Regions from separate parts of the Homo sapiens genome. Here all the other regions are linked to region 1. Evidence: fine-mapped expression QTL. A gene starts in region 1. Each other region holds a variant in brackets. All regions are shown on one strand. Distances are from middle to middle.

Region 1 (4,243 bases):
TCAACTTCCCAGAAGAGGATCCAAGCATAGGCCATGGGATGGAGGGGTAGGGTCTCTGGTCTGGCTATGAAACCCAAACTGAACCAAACAGGCTTTTCTTATGGGCTGGGAGCCCAGGAGCATCTAGTTGACATTAGGAAAAAGGACCAGCCCTGTTTCTGGCAACACTTGGGTCAAAGTGAAATCTATGCTAAAAAGATGATGCTTAATGTAACATGAAAGATGCACACACTCCAACCTGCCTAGATGTTTCTAAGGCAGCAACTCTAAAGGTAATTCAAAGCCCACAGATAATGGAAAACCCACCAGGGACAGTTGGACTATTCCTCCCCCTATCCGTCTGCTCCTTGCTATGACCATTTTATTTATTTTAGCCCTATCTCAGATGTACACACACACATTAAATAGCCACTGCTGACCAGAGAGGGACAAAATTAACTTTACAACTATTTTTACAGAGATGGAGACTCAACTAAAGCAACCCAGTACCAACTGGGAGATGCAATAAATAAGTTTCCATTTGGCTACAGTGGCTCTCCCAGGACACACACAAGAGCCAGCTTCCATACTGTCCTTCTCAGGTGCTATGAGGGGACACACCACAGCTACACAGATTGAATTTGTGAATCCAAACAGGTCTTCATATCTGTAGACGCCCTGAAAATCGACCTGCTCTAACAGCCTCCAAACAATTCACACCTGCTCCTGGCTGCCCAATGTCCTGTGAGAACTCTCTCCCCAGGTGGACTAATTTAAGGGCACTCTCACCCAGACCTGGTTAAAAATCCACAGCAGTCACCAGGAGGTCTAGTCCCTCCCTGGAAGCCCAGCAAACCCATAAGCATCTAAATGGGGTATCAGAGGAGTGGAGATGATGTCATGGGTCTGAGAGCAGGAAAGGCTGCCCAGTGGGCTGTGAGGATGCCCAGGACCAGGGACATCAAGGAAGAGAGGAGATATCCCTTTAACGCATTCATAACTCCAAGGCACAGCTAAGAATGAAGTGAGCCTCAACTTAGCAAACCCACAGGCCACCAAAGACACCTCGACAGCCAAGCTGCTAGAAGCACTTGGCAAAATAGGGCAGCTATTGGACATGTGGATGGCACAAACACCAGGCAGGCAAGATTCTGCTGAAGAAAGTTCACTGGGCCCTGTCACCCACATTCTAGGCATCAGATGCCCAGAAATAAACGTCAAGGGGCCAAGGGCGGGCCCAGTCCAGGAGGGACAGCTGACAGCTGTGGGCGGCGGGCAGGGGCAGAGGAGGAAGGGCTCCCAGGCTGGAATTCGGATCATGCCCACATCAGCAGAAAAGTTCCTGGGAACAGCACGCTGTCTGGAAGGGAAAGAGGCTTGCTGCGGTCCAGGCCCCGGGATGCACACGCGGTGGTGATGCCAGGTTCAAAGGGCCGCCGGATGAAGCCCCGTGTCCTCTCCCAGGGCCCCTCGCCGGTCAGGGCGCCCATCGCGGGGCAAGTAGGGTGGTCAGACGTCTTAAATAAAGCTTCGGTTCCCAGGATCAGTGGGGAAAAATGAATTCCCAGATCCGGCCTTGCTTCAACTCACTTTACCCAAACCAAACAGTCCCAGAGAGGAATGAAAGGAAGCAGCTTTGCTACTCCCTCCGCGGTGCAGGTGGGGAAACTGAGGCACGGAGTGCACGCCAGAGACTCGGGAAGAGGCCCAGAGGAGGCTAACGCAGCCGCGCGCGACCAGGCGTCTGGGAAGATGAGACCAGGGAAGAGTTCTCTCCTCTCCTCTCCTTTCCTTTCCCCGCCTCCGTTCCTCAACACACACAACACACACACAGCCACACTCGAGCTACGCCCAATCGGGGCAGCCGCCGGGCTCCCCAGACCCGGACTGCACACAGAGCCCCGCCCGCGCACACAGCACAACACGACCCGGCGCGCACGCCCACACAATAGGACGGCTCGCACCCCGCGGCGGCCCCTCGGCAGGGTCCGGGCCAGCCCGGCGCCGGGGTCCGCCCTCCGCGCTCACCCACGCCCGGAGAGCGGCCCGCGCCCGGGAGAGGACGCGATCGCACCCGGCCGCTGCGCCCCGCGCCCCGCGCCCCGCGCCCCGCGGGAAGTTCGCCGGCCGCCCCCCGACTCACCCGCGGCGCTGCTCAGCAGCAGGCACAGCGGCCCCAGCAGCCACATGGCGCGGCCGCCGCTCCCGCTGCCCGGCGTCGTTGCTGCCCCCGCGGCCTCGGCGCTGACCCCGCCCCTCGCCGCGCCGTCCCCGCCCTCCCGCCTGGCCCTCCTCCCTCCCGCCTTCCCCGGGCCCGGCCCCGGCCCGGCTCCGCTAAGTTTTGCAAGCGCCTGGGCTGCGCGTGGCCACCCGCATGTTACCCTGGGTGTCCTGACTCCGAGGGGCCGCCGAGCGCGGCGGAGGGTTCAGCCTTTCGGTCTCTCAGCCTTTCAGCCTCCCAGGTCTGGCCGCGAGGATCTTCTAACAGCCTGGGCTCTGTTCTCTGCTTCCTTTTGTCCCTCTCATTTCTGCCTTTGCTTCCACACCCAGCGAGATGCAGCGCCCAGACCAAAACTTGAGTTCTTTACTCAAACTACAAAGTGAGTTTACTACCGAGAGAGAAAAAGTTAAAATAAAGGGTCAAATCTTATGAGAAAATTGTAGTATATTTTTAGTAGCGAGTGTGGAATACCAGTGCTTCTCAAACTTTAATATGCATCCGGCACACTTGACGATCTTGTTAAAATACTGACTCTGGTTCAGTAGATCTGGCGTGGAGCCTGAGATTCTGCATTTTTAACAACATGGTGGCTGATTCCAAGGCTGATGATCCGGGAGCCACCGGTAAGAGCAGCTGACACCTACCATGCACACAGCGTGGACCACATGAGTTATTTTGTCTGCATAGTGTCCACCTTGACCTGTTGAACGTTTGGGACCCAATTTGGAAAAAATAAAATTAAAAAAAGGAAAAGGTCATGAAAGGCAGATACCCAAATGCAAAAAATATAGCTGCACCAATGCACTTGCTTCCAGAGGGCACTGGTGAAAAGCCCCAAAAGACTTAGATGGTGGAAGAAGGGGATGACACTTCTGTGCTCCACTCTCTCTGATCCCCCACCCAAAAAAAGCAAAAGACTAACGCAAATAATTGCCAAAAACTGGAAACAACTCAAGTGTCCATCAATTGATAAATGGATCAATAAATTAAAACTTTTGGGGGCAGTGGGACTGTTCTAATCTTGATTATAGAGGTAGTTACACAACTGTATACATTTGTCAAAACAATAGAACTGCATCCCTAAAATCCACCCCTCAAAAGGGTTGAGTTTATTTACACAAACTCCACCTGGCTGAAAGAAAGGGGAAGGTATGGGTACAGGGGCAGTTATAAAAGGGATGCCTGCGTCAGATTTTGGGATGCCCTGGAGACACCCTCAAGGGTGTTAAGATTCAATTACTTTACTCTGTAATTGCGTGCTGTAGTCTGGAAACATAAAGGCTAAAAAGGATCAGGTCAAAATTTAAAAATACCAATGATTGTTCAAGGTAATGAGAAAATGTGATGTGAGGGAGGAAAGGTTAAGTTCCATAGTTCATAGTACACATGGAAAATATAAATCAATTATCTAAATGATTTGGCATTCGGGGCTTTTATCCTGGGATTGATGAATATTATGGAGATCGTCCCATGGGCTTCAAAGAATTTTAAAGCCCTTAAAATTTTATGCAAAATGTCCTGTGCATGTGGGTATGTGCATTGTTCCGGGAAGCTTGTTGGGAAGAGGCCTCCTGCCTTTGATAATAATATCTGAGGAGGCAAATAAGCAAATAATTTCTCCTACAGCTGCTCATTTGCCTCCAAACATTAGGGATACGGAAAGATAATGCAACTGACCCACTGCTATAGTTCTTATTTCCTTAGGTTTCTTTGGACACATCAACTTCCTTACTTTGCAAGTTTGACTCTGACTCTCTCTCTCGTTCTCTCTCTCTCACATACACACAGGCACACACACTTTTAAATATAAATATATTAATGTCTTTGAAATCATTTGGACTAATGTAAAACCTTATTTAAGGTCAACTGTTGTATTTATTTATTTATTTATCTATTTATTTATTTATGAAACAGAGTCTCACTCTGTTGCCCAGGCTGGGTGCAGTGGCACATTTTGGCTCACTGCAACCTCCGCCTCCCGAGTTCCAGGGATTCTCCTGCCTCAGCCTCCCAAGTAGCTGGGACTACAAGCACCCGCCACCA
Region 2 (4,243 bases), 27 kb after region 1:
GCTGCCCCACAGGAGAAAACAGTTAAGGAAGAATTTTCTTTGATTGGCCCTGGAAGTCAGGGATACTATGCCAGACACCTGTTCCTTTTTGGCTGTCCAGAATCTAATCCCCCTTCTTTTGACAATTCCGCCATCCCTTCTTCTTTCTGCCAGGATGACTCACCCTGGCTCAGGACTAGGGCATGTGATTTAGGTTTAAGCCCATTGAGGTATTGCATTTCCTTGGACTCCAATGACTGGCTCATTGATAATTATGTGACTTAATTAGAGCCAATTAGAGACACAATGAGACTTTTGCAGGGAATTCTGGGAAGGAGACTCTCACTAGATCCTTGCTTGACTTGAGAGGTATGAGGTTGGAACGGCTGTAGCCATCTCCATCTATTGAGGGAACACGGGTTTGAGAACACAGTCAAGTCAGGACGAGAACAAGAGACGCTGGATCTTGAGGACAGTGCTTGAGCCCTCGAATCAATCAATGTCTAAAGTAAGTCCTGATTTCAGACATTCAGTACATGATTCAATAAAATTTCTTTGAGCACTATCTTAGGTTGGATTTTCTCTTTCTCACAACCAAAAAAGTTGTCCTTTTCCCACTAGGGAAAGTTGAGGGGAAGCTCCAAGAACAAGAGCAGCCAGGAGAGGGGCAGTTCACTGCCGTCAGCCAGGAAACTGATTCTCAACTGAGGCTATTGTCCCTTTACGTTTATCATGAAAAGGCAGAACTTGCAACATATGCTTTTAGAGCCATTAGCTTTTCCATTTCTGTCCATCAAAAACCTGACAGTTTTATGGGTGGTGGGGGGAATCTGTCCAGTTGTTTATTCACATGTTAGTCTCCCTTAGAGTGAACACAGACATGGGTTGATTCCTCAATAAAAGTCATCCATATCTGCTTTTGGTCACCATGCCTTTTAAATGCTTATGTTTGCACAATTACACCATCTTTTTAGCTAATGGAGGGTCGATGAAGACATTTGGCCAGAGGACCCTGAAACACCTGAATCCCACCTTTGGCTGGCTAGCCCCATTTCTCAGCAGTGCCTTCACAGGAGCGGTAAGTAGCACTTTATTTTTAGAGAGAGCTTTGGTGAAAAACCATAATGCAAACTTGAGCAAGAGTGGACCTCATGCTTCTTGCCTGTCATGGTTCAAGCCCAATTCTCAGGTATTACCTGTTCGACTTTCTAGTTTCATGTTCTCTGCCTCTGGCTGATGTGTATTGGCTCAGGTTTTTTGTGGTTTGGTTTTGATTCTTGGTTTTCAACTATATCAGAGAAAAAAGCGAAAGTATTTTGTCACCTTTGCCTAGAATATTTGCCGAATGGTGGCTGCCCAAGTCCTTTCAAATTGAGTGAAGAAATCTGAGCCTGCTTCCAGGTGGGAGGAGGACTGTGTTTCCAAGGAGAGAAAAAGTGAAGGAGTGGGGAGAAGGGAAGAGAATGAACTAGAGCTACCCTGCTATTCTGGCCACGAGGATAGAGAGAAAAAGAGAGGCTATGCCTATGTTACGTGTGCTGTATATAACCTTATTTCTGTTGTAAGTTCCACCTCTAGAAAATACGGGCCACTAATTATCGCAGAATCTAACCAATCATATCAATACTCTCAGAGCAGAACAAGGCAGGAATTAAAAGGATAAGCAACAGAATGTTTGAAAGCTGGTTCTTAATAGTCAACATTGTAGTATTAATAAGGATAATGCCAGCTGCAACAGCAAATCATCTCCAAAATTTCAGCAGCCTATCCCAATAAAAGTTTATTTCCTGTTTGTATGACAATCCAAAGTGGGTATTTCTTCGAGTAGGGCTGCTTTCCTCCACTCAATGATTTAAGAACCAATGTTTCTTCAATCTTAAGGCTCCACCTTACACTGGTGATTTTCAATTTTAACTCAATATTGTAATTACCTGAGGAGCTTTATGCTAATACATGAGCCCCATCCCCAAGATATTCTGATTTTATTGGTTTTAGTTGCAGCTTGGGCATCAACAAGTTTAAAACACCTCCAGGGGTGTCTAAAGTATAGCCAGTGTTACACAAGGGTGTTGCCCTAGGGCAGTGGTTCCCAACGTGTGGTGCCCAGATTGGTATATCCACAACATCTGGGAACTTGTAAGACTTGCAAATTATCAAGTCCCTGATCTACTGAAGAAAAACTCTGGGGATAGAGCCCCCAGCAATCTGTGTTTTAACAGCCTTCTAGTTGATTCTGAGGCATACTCAAGTTTTGTTTTGTTTTCGAGATAGGATCTTGCTCTGTCACCCAGGCTGGAGCGCAGTGGTGCAATCATGGCTCACTGCAGCCCCAACCTCAACCTCCCAGACTCAAGTGATCCTCTTGCCTCAGCCTCCTGAGTAGCTGGGACCACAGGTGCACATCACCATGCCTGGCTAATTTTTCTTTCTTTCTTTCTTTCTTTCTTTTTTTTTTTTTGGTAGACATGAGGGTCTCACTATGTTGCCCAGGCTAGTCTTAAATTCCTGGCCTCCCAGAGTGCTGA[G/C]ATTACAGGTGTGAGCTACCACATCTAGTTGCAAAGTTCTCTGCAACCAGGTGGAAGAGAAAAGAGGAAGCGTGAAGGAGCATATCTCTTTCTTAAATACCTTGGACTAGAAATGACCACATGGGGCCAGCTACATTCAGAGGACTATGAAATGTGACCCTGGCTGGGCAGCCTGTTTCTGCAATAATCATACACTCTTGAGTTGCCTGCACTGACTCTGAATTCCACACTAAATCAGGATTGAAAGAAAAGGAAAAACAATTCTAAATTCTAGGTATAACATAGATGGTCAGGGCTCTCAGGCCCTAGGAGTTCAAGATGAAACAAAAACCTATAAAAAGACATACAAATTACTTGTGTTGATACAGGATAGATGAGGTTCATTCAGACAGAGAAACTGACACATAAAAATTGCACAAATTTATAACCAATATGCCATGCCTTATAATGTTATTTTTTCATCAAAGTGATATAACCCCTGGAGTCCTCATTCTAACTCTCCTAGATTCACCACCTCCCCACTTCCTTCCCTGCAATAGCTCAACAGCAACTCTAAGGCAAAGATAGAAGATTGTACATCTGTAGGGACATGGCCATCTCAGAAGTCAGTCCATAAGAAATTTGCCTACTTGAGACCCCCTGCTGTGTGATGATAGAGGGTACAGAGACCTTAAAATTGAGCAGTTTGAGGCCGGGTGAGGTGGCTTATGCCTGTAATCCCAGCACTTTGGGAGGCTGAGGCGGGCAGATCACGAGGTCAAGAGATCAAGACCATCCTGGCCAACATAGTGAAACCCCGTCTCTACTGAAAATATAAAAATAAGCTGGGTGTGGTGGTGTGTGCCTGTAGTCTCAGCTACTCAGGAGGCTGAGGCAGGAGAATTTCTTGAACCTAGGAGGCGGAGGTTGCAGTGAGCCGAGCTTGTGCCACCGCACTCTAGCCTGGTGACAGAGCAAGACTCCATCTCAAAAAGAAAAAGAAAAAAAAATTGGGCAGTTTGATTCACATTCATGTCCTGGCTTTGCCATTTCTTTCCTGTCCTGTATGACTTAGGGTGAGATACTTACCCTCTCTGAGCCTCATTTTGCTCTTCTCTGAAAGAGATAAAAGTCCTGGCTTGTAGAATTATTGGGACAACTACATGCAATAAAATGGGTGAAATGCTTAAAAAATGTCTATGTTTCTAATTCCCCCTTTCTTTTCCTACACTCAGGGTAGGAATATATCCATAGAACACATGCAGATGGATAAGCCAGGTTCTGGTCTCCATTCCAGGAGAATGCCATTTGGTTGAATTTTGGCTACAGTGTACGGACATAAAGAATTTGGGTCATTCTTATACCCAACAGACCACATCCAGGAAATGTATTCAAGATGCTTTGATCTCATCTGAGGGGTGGCTAAGTACAACCCATTCTTAATAAAGCTATTTATAGTGAGAAGCAATTTGGGTCAGGCCTGCCTTTCCAGTCTGCCTCATTGGCAAAGTGGTAGGCCCCTGACTTCTGTCTCTTACGTGTTCCTTGTGGTTTCTGTCTGCTCTGACTTTGGTTGTGTGTTGCATTTAGATGAGATGCCAAGGAGATAATATCGTCCAGAGAGCTAAGGAACAGCCTGAATGCCTGGGGACTTTGTACTGTCTGTGACACTTCAGAAAGTGACTCAATTAGCCAGTGGTTCAGAGCAATGAGAACCCATGAACACTTCGTCCATTTGAGGGTAGAGACCACTCTGGCCA
Region 3 (4,243 bases), 22 kb after region 1:
TGAAGAAAACAATTATAGAGAATCATTGGGCAGCAAAGTAGATAACCAATAAGCCAATGACCTGATCAATGGGTATTAGATACATTAAATGCAAAAGATGATCCTGAAGTGTCCATTAGCAGAGATTCTACAAATATATTACCTAAAAATAATCAATACAGCCTGCTGACAATGTAACCTATAATAGTGGTTTCAGAAGCAATTTCAAAAACGTGCACTGCTCACACTTGATTGTCTTTTCTACTTTTACGCTGCAAACCATACCTTTCCCTATCTCCATCTTAAGTCCCTTCTTTAAGGCTTTTTCTATAATAGTTTGTTGTTTCATTCTTACCACGCAGTAAGAAGAAATGGAAAAAGGGAGTCATGTGGGTTTTCTGTCTCTCCAGGACACAATTTGATGAAACATGACCAATATTTGCTGATGGCTTTGAAGACAAAACTATGACATTACAGCCTTTGCTTTTAAAGGTAGAGGAAACTTGTGAGAAAGTTAGCATGGGGGTGTGTAATGGGAAGCACGAGTTGTAAAGATTGGATGCTTCCTGTTAAACTTGGACAGGAAATTTGTTTTGTCATGATTGTCCAGAATGTCAGCTTGGCTCCTCACTCGAAAAAGGGAAACAAAGAACAATTCTTGTGTCCTTGTGTGCCGCCAGACTAATCAGCATCGTTCCTTCCACTTTACAACAGTTTATGGAGTTTGATTTTGTATACCCCATAAGTGTTAACACATTACAAAGTTAGTTGACTGGGAGAGGACAGGATAATGATCTTACTATTATATATTATTTAACTGGCATTAATCTTTCATTTGCCTCTCTGGCAAGACCAAGATTTTTCTTTGCTCGTGGAAGTGATCAGGAGTGTGCTACATAGGTGCTATACTCACTTGTGAAAGACTGGCCCTGCCGCCAATGAGCTTGATGCCAGGATAGAGGCAGGAACCCAGAAGCCTCTTTATGCCTCTTCTATTTTCACCCTTCACAGTATGGCTGGAAAGGAAGCAGAGACCTAACATCTCCTGAAGACCTACTATGTACCAGGCACCACGCTAGGCACAGGAAGATAACATCTAATTTTCATTGATATTTGTTTCCACAAAGGCATTGTTAGTGATCAGAAAAGTGCGTTATTTTGAGCATAGAGAGGAGAAAAATCCTCTGCCCTTTCCAGTAGCAAAATCCTGGAATCCCAAGATTCTAGAAGAAAATGTCAGCAGGGCCCTTTGATATTTTTTGTTCATAAGGAAGGAAATTAATCTAGGGGTGGTGAGGTGGGTTGTTGTTTGCTCCTCTCTAACGCTAAGGTAATGGTAGTTCTACTGCTATGTCCCAGGATTAGGCCGCTTAAAATGAGGCTAGTAAAAGCCAGAAACATTATATTTTCACAGAAGCAAATAATATTAGGTTTCAAGAGCTAGAAGTTCTAGAAAAGGGAAACAGCCCTTTGGTTGCACATGTAAAAGTAAGTAACATATCCATCATTTTTAAGAAAAATTATGCAATAAATATTAATATAAAAGTTGATGTAAAATAGAATACTTTAAAAAGTAAAACCATGACTCATACAAACAGAAAGTGAACACATGTCAAATATTTTATTTCACTCATTAATTAATGAGGAAAACAGTAAGACGTTATAACAGGTTCAAAGGAAATCAAAGAGTGGATACACATATGGGCAATCAAGAGTGCCGACAGCTGAGTGTGGTGGCTCACACCTGTCATCCCAACACTTCAGGAGGCCCAGGGAGGAGGACTGCTTGAGCCCAAGAGTGTGAGAACAGCCTGGGCAACATAGTTAGATCCCATCTCTACCAAAAATTTAAAAATTAGTTGGGCTTGGTGGTTGGTGGCCGTAATGCCTAGATGAGGCTGAAGGGGGAGGATCTCTTGAGCCCAGGAGTTCAAAGTTGCAGTGAGCAACTGCAACTATGATCACACCACTGCACTCTGGCCTGGGCAACAGAGTGAAACCTTGTTTCAAACAAAACCAAAAAAACCACCAAAACAAACAAACAAACAAACAAAAACAAGAAAGCTGACAAATTTGTTGAAGAGATGCAAAAACTGGCTTGAGGGGAAATAGTAGGGACAATTTTCAAAATTAATTGCATGTTGTGGTAGCCAGAATTCTAAGAGTCCTACC[T/C]CTTAGTGTACATGCCTTGCATAACTTTTTTTTTTTTTTGAGACTGTAGAATTTCTTTTTTTTTTATCTTTTCTTTTCTTTTTTTTTTTTGAGACGGAGTCTCGCCCTGTTGCCTAGGTTGGAGTACACTGGTGTGATCTTGTATCACTGCAACCACCGCCTCCCGGGTTCAAGCAATCATCCTGTCTCAGCCTCACGAGTAGCTGGGACTACAGGTGTGCACCACCATGCCCAGCTAATTTTTGTATTTTTAATAGAGAAGGGGTTTCACCATGTTGGCCAGGCTGGTCTTGAACTCCTGACCTCAAGTGATCCACTCGCCTCGGCCTCCCAAAGTGCTGGGATTACAGGCGTGAGCCACCATGGCTGACCCCCTGCAGAATTTCTTCTTCTTGAGTATGGGCAGGACTGTGAGTATGATGGATTTCATTCTCATGATTAGGTTACATTGGTCAACAAAGGTGAAAGGAATTTGCAGGTGTAATTAAATGTTTGAGACAAATTAATCAAAAGGGAGATTATCCTGAGTAGGTATGATCTAAATCAAGCAAACCCTTAAATAAAGAGATTTAAAGTAGGAAAGATTCTGCTGACCTTTGAGAGGCAAATTGCCAAGTTGTGAAGGCCACGTGGTAGGGAACAGCAGGTGGCCTCTAGAAACTGAGAATAGCCCATGCTGACAGCCAGTAAAAAATCAGGGGGCCGGGCTCGGTGGCTCATGCCTGTAATCGCAGCACTTTGGGAGGCCAAGGTGGGTAGATCACGAAGTCAGGAGATCAAGACCATCCTGGCTAACACGGTGAAAACCCGTCAGTACTAAAAATACAAAAAATTGGCCGGGCATTGTAGCACGTGCCTGTGGTCCCAACTACACGGGAGGCTGAGGCAGGAAAATTGCTTGAACCCAGGAGGCAGAGATTGCAGTGTGCCGAGATTGTGCCACTGTACTCCAGCCTGAGCGACAGAGCGAGACTCCGTCTCAAAAAAAACAAAAACAACAACAACAACAAAAAAAATCAGGGACCTCAGTCTTAAACCACAAGATGAATTCTGTCAATGAAATGCACTTAGGAGAGAAACCCAAGCCCAGGACCACATCATGATTTCAACCTGCTGATATCCTGGGCAGAAGACCCAGTTAACCTGTGCCTGAACTCCTAACCCACAGAAAATACAAGATAATACATGTATGTTATATCAAGTTGCTTAGTTTATGGTAGTTTTTTAAAAACAGCAACAGAAAACTCATACACATGTCCATGGAAAATAATCACTTGTATTGCAATCAGTTAGCTGCAACTTACAAAGTTGTAAAATTGTTCAAGGCAGTGAAAGGTGCAGCAATCCCACAGAATCAAACACCCTGGAAGGTTGCCCAAGACAGCACATAGATTTTCACTGAAGGTACTCAGTAATGCATTTGGTCCATTTCAAAGTCCTTCCATACAGTGAAAAATGTTTCATTTATTTAAGTGCTTGTTTCACAGACAATATTGCTTTATTTTTATTTAAATAAACTTTTTTCCCTGAATGGATTTTAGACTACACTTTGTTTTTTAAATATGTGAGGGGTTGGTGGGGGTTGGTTAGCTTCCAGAAGTTGCAGAGTGGAGACCCAAGAAGGCTTTAGAAACAACCAGGAGGTCTGAGCCTCACCGCACACCAGTCATGGCTGAGAAAATGGACCTGGGCAAAATGGGACTGAGAGGTTTGTGTTTTATGTGCAGTGAATGCTAAGGCTGATTTTATCCATTCATCTATTTATTCACTCAACAAACAAATCCAGTACCTACATGGGGAAGAATTATTTAGTAAAAATAATGATAGCTAACACATACAAGCTCTTACCATGCATTAGTCATTTTCCTAAGCACTTTATTCATAGTAACCTATATAATGTTCACAATAACCCAATGAGGTATGTACTATTATTATCCCCGTGTTATAGATGATGAAACAAGCAGAAAAAGGTTAAGTGACTTTCCCAAAGTCCCACAGCTGGTGAGTGTGAGAGTTGGGATTCACACTCATATAGTCTGGGTCCTAGCTCTCATCCCCCACATGGTACCATCTTTATAGCTAGGATCTCTTG

Direction of the effects. Alleles are on the strand shown, and positions count from the first base shown. SD is a standard deviation of normalised expression in the study named.
As copies of G replace C in region 2, the expression in prefrontal cortex of the gene that starts at base 2,205 in region 1 goes up (small effect, 0.33 SD a copy in CommonMind).
In carriers of allele C in region 3, the expression in monocytes of the gene that starts at base 2,205 in region 1 tends to be lower than with T alone (large effect, 1.1 SD a copy in Quach 2016).

Evidence for each region. PIP is the estimated chance that this variant, and not a neighbour inherited with it, causes the effect. A credible set is the group of variants that fine-mapping cannot tell apart.
Region 2: its variant is the best candidate, but not a certain one, in a credible set for the expression of LDLRAD3 in prefrontal cortex (CommonMind, PIP 0.62).
Region 3: its variant is the best candidate, but not a certain one, in a credible set for the expression of LDLRAD3 in monocytes (Quach 2016, PIP 0.80).

The regions. Positions count from the first base shown.
Region 1 is chr11:35,942,024-35,946,266 of GRCh38, reverse strand. It overlaps LDLRAD3 (low density lipoprotein receptor class A domain containing 3), which reads right to left and starts at 2,205. Exons shown (of 6, transcript NM_174902.4): 1 at 2,123-2,205. The coding sequence starts at 2,168. RefSeq lists a silencer at 1,855-2,294.
Region 2 is chr11:35,914,825-35,919,067 of GRCh38, reverse strand. No RefSeq gene overlaps it. Among named protein-coding and RNA genes, the nearest start is that of LDLRAD3, 27 kb to the left of the region's middle. The variant G/C (reference allele first, on the strand shown) is at 2,505.
Region 3 is chr11:35,919,992-35,924,234 of GRCh38, reverse strand. No RefSeq gene overlaps it. Among named protein-coding and RNA genes, the nearest start is that of LDLRAD3, 22 kb to the left of the region's middle. The variant T/C (reference allele first, on the strand shown) is at 2,152.